Linked DNA regions of Homo sapiens: regions 1 and 3 are each linked to region 2. Evidence: fine-mapped expression QTL. A gene starts in region 2. Each other region holds a variant in brackets. All regions are shown on one strand. Distances are from middle to middle.

Region 1 (2,757 bases), 120 kb before region 2:
CTTGTTAATTTTCTGGTTCAGAGTCGTCACCAGCAAATAGAAGGGCTCTCCGACAGTCTCCTTGGAAAAGACACAAAAGTGACAGTTAGCTTTCTGTGGAATCCACTGTACTTTCCAAAGAATTAAAGTTTCTGTTTACAGCAGTAAGGCAGGAGACAGGGTTTTCTAACACTCAACATGAAACGCCCAAGAAAATACACGTTGCTCCACTTGGGATTGGATGCAAAACTCAGAAAACCGCCTCCTCTCTCCATCGCGAATGCACATCTGCACACGCGCACGCGTGCACATTCACAGCGACGTGCAGTACCCACAGTATACCTTGTTATTTTATGTTTAAACTTACATATGGCAGACTAATGCTCATCAGTGGGTTAATGCCTAGGAACAGTTAGATGTGGAGAGTGTACCTTTGTTTACATTCGTATTTAATCACCCTTTAGCAAGCCAGAAATAAACGACATTTAAAAAAATGCACAAGTATCCTTAGTAACAAGGATAAATGTAAGAACATTTTATACATTTGCCAAATACAATGTTTTTTGGTGTTAACAGCACTTCTCGAAGGAAGCAGCCTGCCGTTCAACAGTTTGCAGCCTTATCTCCTCTCCATGGGCCAGGCCAGGCCCGGCCCGGGCAGTTCCCAGACACACACTGCACAGTCCCACCTGGACATGTTTTCCGGTGCTGGGCCAGAGGGACTCCATCTTCTTCCCTGAACCAGAGCCAATTCCATTTCCTCTAAGGTTTTTCTCCAAACACTCGGCCCATCCCGATTGGCTCTTTCTACAAATTTAAGCCACATGCATTTTTCCTGGCTGGGGGTGGGGCTGCCTCCCCTGCTGTGATGGAAATGGCTCACATTCGCAGACACGGATGTCTGCATTCCAAAGGACTCTGAGCACCTCAAGTGGGAGGCGGTGTGTTCTGTTTCCACGGCATCCTCCCAAGGCACTTAGCCCTGGGTCAGCTGTAGAGTATTTGCTAAATAACGAACCTTCCGTAATCAATGGACATTAGGCCTCTGTGGTGGAGGAAGAACCGTGGCTGGGAAGTCAAAGTGCCTTAGTGATGACGAAAGGCCAGCCACGTGGCTGGGGCTCGAAGCGCCAGTTAAGAGTCAAGCTTGACAAGCGATACGTCCAGCTGGGAAAGGAGGATTCCACTGGGTCTCACCTGCTTTCCCTTGCGCAGGCAAGTTACCTAAGACATCTTAAGTCTCTCAGCATCCCACCCCAACCCTGTCCCTTCCTTTATACTTGCTGCAGGAATATCTGCCCTCCCCAGTCCCCGGGCTTCCTCTTGCCACCTCCTGCCACCCTGCAGCTTCTATCCCTGCTGTGATACCTCCTTGAGTCTCCTCTTCAGTGCAGGGCAGAAGTGGAAGTTCAGAAATTTCCAAGGTAGGGAGGGCAGCAGGACTAGTGCATGACATTTAATTCTCATGAGAAACTTCCTTTATTTAGTG[G/C]TTTACAACCTCACCCTTCTCTTCTCTTTCCCTCCACCGCCCACCTCCCCCACCCCAAGTAATGCCCTGACCACAAAACTTAGAACCTCTTTTCCTCCAGCACAGATCAGAAGGGAGGCTGAGAACCCTTGGATAGGGGCTGTGTACTCCCGCAGGGGTTGGAGTCAGGGGGCCAGGTGGGCTCTCGGGGGCTGTGTGAAGGGACAGGTCTTGACTCAGGAGGCCTGTGGTCAGGAATTCTCCAGAACTTTCTGGAGAGTAGCTAGACTGAGCTAAGTAACATCTGGCCCTACACTCTGCCCATGCTCCTGGGTCTAACCCTGGCTAATCACCAGAATCCCTTGCGGGCTCTTGTTAAGCATTCAGATGCCTGAGCTCCACTCTAGACCTACAGAGCTGCCATCTCTCTGAAGAATGAGGCCTGGGTATCTGTAGTTTTCATTACCTTCCCGGGGCCGGGGGCGGGGAGGCGGTGGGGGAGGAGGATTCTGATGTGTGGCTGATTTGGGGAATCACAGGGCCATGAGGTTTCTCTGTCACCACTAAACACAACTTTTAGGCGAGCCACAGCCGCTGCGTACGTGATTCCCCTCCCCCAGGGGCCAGGCTTCGACACTTTAACAGACCAGGGCAGATTCCATCTTTTCAGGGCACAGGGCGGTGGCTAAGAGCTCTCGGACCCTGGTGCTGTCCCACAGTAGCAGTGAGATCTGGGGAGAGTCACAGCTCTTCTGTGTTCCAGTTCCCCCATATACAAAATGGTCATGAAGACACTTAGCTCACAGGACCCTTAAGGGGATGAAATGAGAAAAGATAGGTAAAGCTCTTAGCATGCTGTCTGGCACATTCAATAAATGGTATTATTATTTTACCCACAAATCCTTGGTGTCTTGGAAGGGAAAGTTACCTGGCGGTCACGGAGCTACTGTCACCCACTAAACGTCTGTGGGGTAGGACAGGAGGACTAGGGCTGTCGGTGTCCCAGACCCCCTTGAGCACCTGGTGGAGGGACATCAGACCCCTGCACCAGCGGGAATTATTCCACTGAAAGTGAAAGTATCGCCGACTGGCTGGATGCCACTTCCTCCTGGCGAGCCGAGCCGCCCCCTCACCACTCAGAGTGCTCGAGACGCTCTTGAATCAGCACTGTGAAGTCTTGACCCAGAATGCTTTGCTCAAGGAGGCTGTTTGGGCTCGCAGCCCAGATTTTCTGAACATCTCACCCCTCTAATGCCCAAGAGCAGCCCTTGAAAGCTCAGAGTTAAGAATCACAAGATCCAGTAGAAAGA
Region 2 (2,757 bases):
GGCGCGCGCCTGGATCTCACTCATTCTGAAGAGGCAGAGCGCCGTGGTGGTGGGGGAGCGCCGCTCCTGGCCCTCTCCAGCGGCCGCGCTGAACACTCCCGCCCAGACGTCCAGGGCCTCCACTAGGCTGGAGGAGAGGAGCAGGCGGCGGCCGTCGGGGTGGCCGTGGCCGCAGTCGAGGGATGCCTGGCCCTGGAACAGCACCTCGGTGCTCTGCGCGATGCGCGCCATGCTGGGCCAGCCGGTGGCAGCGCCGCTCGTGTAGTTGTAGGGGTAGTAGGGGAAGTAGATGCTGCCGTTCCAGAGAAAGGCGTCCACGAAGTGCAGGCTGCCCGCGCCCTCGCACAGCTTGAGGCGCCCCAGCTCCTGCGTGGCCAGGCTGCGCCCCTCCGTGTCCTTGAGCGCGATGGCCGTGTCGTGGTCGGATGCCGCGGGGTTGCAGCGGCTCGCCGTCTCCGGCTCAGGCAGCACGTAGGTGGCGGCCACCGCCAGGTACCAGCGGTTGTTCCGGCCCGCGCGGTACACCACGCCGGCCGTCGAGCCCTGCGGGTGGCACGACACCACCTCGGTGCCGTTGCGCAGGGAGTTGCGGCTCAGGTTGCCCAGGGGCCGCACCTCGCAGGCGCCCCGGTCGAAGGTCCAGCCGGTGAGCAGCAGCCCCCCGAGGCCGGCCGCCCCCTCGCGGTAGGGCAGCAGCAGCTTGCTGAAGCTGCTCCCGGGCCGGGGCCGCGCGGGGGGCGCCAGCGAGACCGGCTCTGTGCAGTTGCCCGCTTGGTCCCGGTACAGGCGCGAGAGGCTGTGCTCCAGGCTGTAGTCCAGCTGGTCCAGGCAGCTGCCGCTCGCCACAAACACGCCGTCCTCCTGGCTCGCCGCGATGGCTCCGATGGCTTGCTCCGACCGCCACACGGGCTCGTCCGCGCCCCGGCCGGGAGCCGCCAGTGCCAGCAGATAGGCGAGCAGGGGCAGTGGCGCTGCGGGGCGCGGGGGGCGCGGCGGCGCCTTCCTCCGGGAGACCTCCATGGGGCTGGGGGGGCCGCCCCCGGGCAGGGCGCGCGGCGGCGACGGCGGCTCAGGCGCGCGGCAACGGAGACGCGGGCGGCGGCGGCGGCGGTTCCTGCGCGCGCTCGGGCTCCCGCGGCCGCCCCATCCCCGCAGCTCGCCCAGGAAGGAGAGCGGGGAGGGCGGCGCGCGGCAGGCTCGCTCCGGCAGCCTGTGCAGCGGCGGTGGCGGCAGCAAGCCCTGCGCGCTCCGGCACCGTTTCCTCCTCGCCCTCCTTCGCCGGAGAGTTCCTGTGTGCAGCGCTGGCGCTCGCGGGGAGGCGCGGAGGGGAAGGGAGGGGACGGGCGGAGAGGAGCGAGGCGGGCGGGGAGGGCTGGAGAGGTTGGGTGCGCTTGTGCGTTTCACTTTCCCATTGTGAAAGTGGGATGCAACTGGCCCCCTTCCTCATCCTCTCTTCCTCCTCCGCCCTCCGCCTCCTGCCCGCCCGCCCGCCCTCCCTCCACGCCCATCTCCCCTCCCCTCTTGATTCGGTGAGATAGGGAGGAGGGAGGTCTCGTAATTTGGGTTACTGTGTAGGTGGCCTCTTTCATCTATTCATAACAAAGCTCAGCCGCCCGCCGCGGCCGCCGCGGCCGCCACCATCGCCCCCTTGGCTCGCCTGGGGCTCCCGGGGCGCGCTAACGGCGCACGGAGCGGGCTCCCGCGCCCGTCCGCCCGCGGTGCTGCTCCAACGCCCGGTTTTGTTTACGACAGCAGCCGGGTCGGGGATACGCCAGGCGCGCGGAGCGAGGATCCAGGGTGCGAAGGGGTTGCAGCTGAGGCCCCGGGCTCGGGCCACAGGGCTGCTGCGAGAGCGGCTGACAGGTGTGGAGCGGCGAGAGGGAGGCCCCGGGGAGGCGCGCGGGAGACATGGCCGAGCCGGAGACTCCGGGGACCAAGGCGCCCCTGTGACAGGGTGTGGGTTTCCCCGGGTCGGATGAGTGAGGTGGCAGAAAGGCAGGCGCCACACTCTCGTTCTGGACAATCCCCAGGGCCGGAGCGCCCATATTTGCAAAGGTTCTCTAATCTCCCTTGGCAACAGAGTCCCAGGCTCTCAAGCCTAGCACTTGGAAAGTTCTGCTCACCATCTAACCTAATGAGCGGGGCTAACATTTACTGAGCACTTACTACGTGCCGGGTGCGCTTGTGAACTCACCACATGGGTTAAGACTCATAATTCTCATAACAGCCCTATTAATTAGTGACTGTTATTGTCATCCCTACTTAGTAGTCCAGGAGAATGGTTATAGAAAGGTTGTGGAACGTGCTGGCATTCTACTGCTGGTAGATATCAGAGCCGAGATTCGAATCCATATCTAGCCCCAGGGCCTCTTACATACCTGGCTCTAGTTAAGTGCCACCTGTGGCCATTGCCATAATCCCCCAGAGATCATTCTCTGTAGTGAGACTGAAAAGTTCCTCAAGTTAAATGCACCAACCAGCCCCCGCCCTGCTTTCTACTATTAGACCCAAGTCCCCGTATTTCCCTCGAGGCTCTCCATCTGTCTCATCATTACCCACTTTTATCCTTTGGACCCCCTGAGGTCTCACCACCTCACCCAGAGGGTGAATAACAGCTGGGTTGCCCCCACAGCCGCCAAGAATTTCTGAAGCACAGGGAATCATTGCCCACTGGGGAATAGGTTCATGATTTCTCGGAATGGGGCTTCCCAGAGGATGCACAAATGCCTCCCAGCTTCCCGGGGCAGCTGCGGGCAC
Region 3 (2,757 bases), 35 kb before region 2:
ATAGAGGTATTTCCTTGTAGTTCACAAATGCCTCTGTAACACTGATGGATTTTAATAAGTGTCATGCAATCTCTCTAACCTTGTTTCCTCATCTGTAAAATGGATCACGACTTCATGGGGTTATTATGAACTATTGTCTGACAGGTACTAAATGTTCAATAAGTATTGGTTACTGCTATTATGCAAGAAAAGGGCTCCATGATCCAGCAAACATAAAACCTCAGACTGAAAAAGCAAAACGGGTTTCCTTAGCACAGGGCTTCTCGGAGCCTTTGACTATGCTGAGCCTCACAGTATTCCAGGAGGGGTATAGTAAGTAACAGCTGGTTCTGGGACCACTTTTGCTCAGAGCATTCTGTGGAATATGGGTCTCCAGAACATTCTCTGAGAACTATTACTCAGTCTATTTAAACACACAAATATAACTCTGTATAAGAGGGAGGACACTGGCTGGCCGTGGTGGCTCACACCTGTAATCCCAGCACTTTGGGAGGCTGAGGTGGACAGATCACTTCAGGCCTGGAGTTGGAGACCAGTCTGGCCAACTCTGTCTCTACTAAAAATACAAAATTTAGCTGGGCATAGTGGTGGGCGTCTGTAATCCCAGCTAGTCAGGAGGCTGAGGCAGGAGAATCTCTTGAACTCAGGAGGTGGAGGTTGCAGTGAGCCAAGATCACACCACTGCACTCCAGCCTGGGCGACAGTGAGACTCTGTTTCAAAAAAAAATGAGAGAGGGCCAGGCGAGGTGGCTCACGCCTATAATCCCAGCACTTTGGGAGGCTGAGGTGGGTGGATCACCTGAGGTCAGGAGTTTGAGACCAGCCTGACCAGTATGGTGAAACCCCGTCTCTATTAAAAAAAAAAAAATACAAAAATTAGCCGGGCATGGTAGCGTGTGACTGTAGTCCCAGCTACTAGGGAGGCTGAGACAGGAGAACTGCTTGAACCTGTGGAGGCGGAGGTTGCAGTGAGCTGAGATTGCGCCACTGCACTCCAGGCTGGGTGACAGAGCAAGACTCCATAAAAAAAAAAAAGAGAGAGAGAGAGAGGACACTAAAAATACTACATTAGACCTGCCCTCTAATTTAATAACAGACCGTAGTGACTATTCCATATCAATGCCTACATCTCCATATGATTATTTTTAGCGGCCCCGTATCATACCATTTTATGGATATCCCATAGCTTATTAGTTTGGCTGTTCTTATCTCCCCAAGAGCCTTCCTTGGACTTTGTCTCTTTAGGCGTTATATTTGCTCAGCCAGAGTTCAAACAGTAGGATCTCTAGCAGTAATCCTCAGTGAAGAATGCAGGGCTAACCAGCTTTGATGCCCAGTCAAAAACTCTTCCCAGGACTTCAGGCTTTGAATGATCAGAGGCTAGAACTTTTTGCTTTCTAGAAAGTGGGAACCCATCAACTACTGGTGGCTTTTCATAATGGTTCCCAGCCTGGGGTCCTGAGTTCTGGGGTTCCATTACTATCCATGAAGGAAGTAATGGGGGCTTATGAGCTATTTGCAATATTTCAGACAGCTGAATGGAAAAACAC[G/A]CATGGATTAAGGAAGATATCAAGTTTCTTTGCTTTGGGTTGGAATTTTATCAGCTCCATGTGGGAACACAGTCAGTACTCTGACCGGCAGTTTTGAGACGCCCTTGATAAATAAACCCTGGGAATGGGAACTGTTACTTAATATGTGCAGTTTGTTGGGTAGACAAAAGTCTTTCAAAGATGGGATCCCCAGGGAAGAAACATAATACAAAGTGTCTGCATGGTGAAGCAAATTGGCATAGGAGATTCTATATGGTGAAGGACTGGTTTACAAGCTCTGTGGGAAGATGTGGCCATCTCAGTGTGGTCATTTTGATATAACTGACTTTTCAATGTGCAAAGAACAGTATCGTCTTTATAAGAATACCAGAAACTACAAATTGCTTGCACATCTTATCTGTGACTCAAAAAGCACATGTAGATTGCTGTCATTGCTATTTTCCTTAGAATGACTGAAAGGAAAAGAATGGAAAACCAGGGTTGGGCTGAGAGTATCTGTTACATCCATTATATAATTATGTAAGTCTCAATTATCTTCTTTGCACTTTCCATGTTCAAACGGTCATAGGTCAAAACCACTGAGCCAGGGAATGTCCAGTTTTCACAAATTTTGGATTTAATATCATTTATCAGAGGCTTTAGAATCAGGGTTGAGTTTTTGTCACAGCCCTGCAAAGGCTAACCTATAGATAGATAGATAGATGATAGATAGATAGATAGATAGATAGATAGATAGATAGATAGATAGATACAGATATTCTTGAACAAGTTATTTAACCTCTCCAAGTCTTAGATTCTTCACATAAAATAAATTAATAACACATTTATTTTTATTAAATTAATAACACATTTCTTTTTCTTCTTCTTTCTTTTTTTTTTCTTTTTTGAGACAGAGTCTCACTCTGTTGCCCAGGCTGGGGTGCAGTGGTGTGATGTCAGCTCACTGCAAACTCCACCTCCTGGTTTCAAGCGATTCTTGTTCTTCAGCCTCCCAAGTAGCTGGGATTACAGGCATGCACCACCACGCCCAGCTAATTGTTTGTATTTTTAGTGGAGATGGGGTTTCATCATGTTGCCCAGGCTGGTCTTGAACGTCTGAACTCAGGTGATCCCTGCCTTGGCTTCCCAGAGTGCTAGGATTATAGGTGTGAGCCACCATGCCCAGCCTTTTTTTTTTTTTTTTTTTTTTTTTTGAGACAGGGTCTTG

The links.
Region 1: its variant is fine-mapped to the expression of PLXNC1 in whole blood (TOPMed, PIP above 0.99). The same link has a PIP of 0.9 or more in blood mononuclear cells.
Region 3: its variant is fine-mapped to the expression of PLXNC1 in pancreas (GTEx, PIP above 0.99).

Annotation. Positions count from the first base shown.
Region 1 is chr12:94,262,382-94,265,138 of GRCh38, reverse strand. PLXNC1 (plexin C1) reads right to left here. Exons shown (of 31, transcript NM_005761.3): 21 at 1-60. Among named protein-coding and RNA genes, the nearest start is that of PLXNC1-AS1, 87 kb to the right of the region's middle. RefSeq lists enhancers at 133-896, 897-1,661 and a silencer at 1,852-1,931. The variant G/C (reference allele first, on the strand shown) is at 1,469.
Region 2 is chr12:94,147,235-94,149,991 of GRCh38, reverse strand. PLXNC1 (plexin C1) reads right to left here and starts at 1,415. Exons shown (of 31, transcript NM_005761.3): 1 at 1-1,415. The coding sequence starts at 1,020. RefSeq lists an enhancer at 289-388 and silencers at 589-828, 959-1,188, 1,259-1,508, 1,519-1,648.
Region 3 is chr12:94,182,404-94,185,160 of GRCh38, reverse strand. The region is part of intron 3 of PLXNC1 (plexin C1); the gene reads right to left. Among named protein-coding and RNA genes, the nearest start is that of PLXNC1-AS1, 7.3 kb to the right of the region's middle. The variant G/A (reference allele first, on the strand shown) is at 1,551.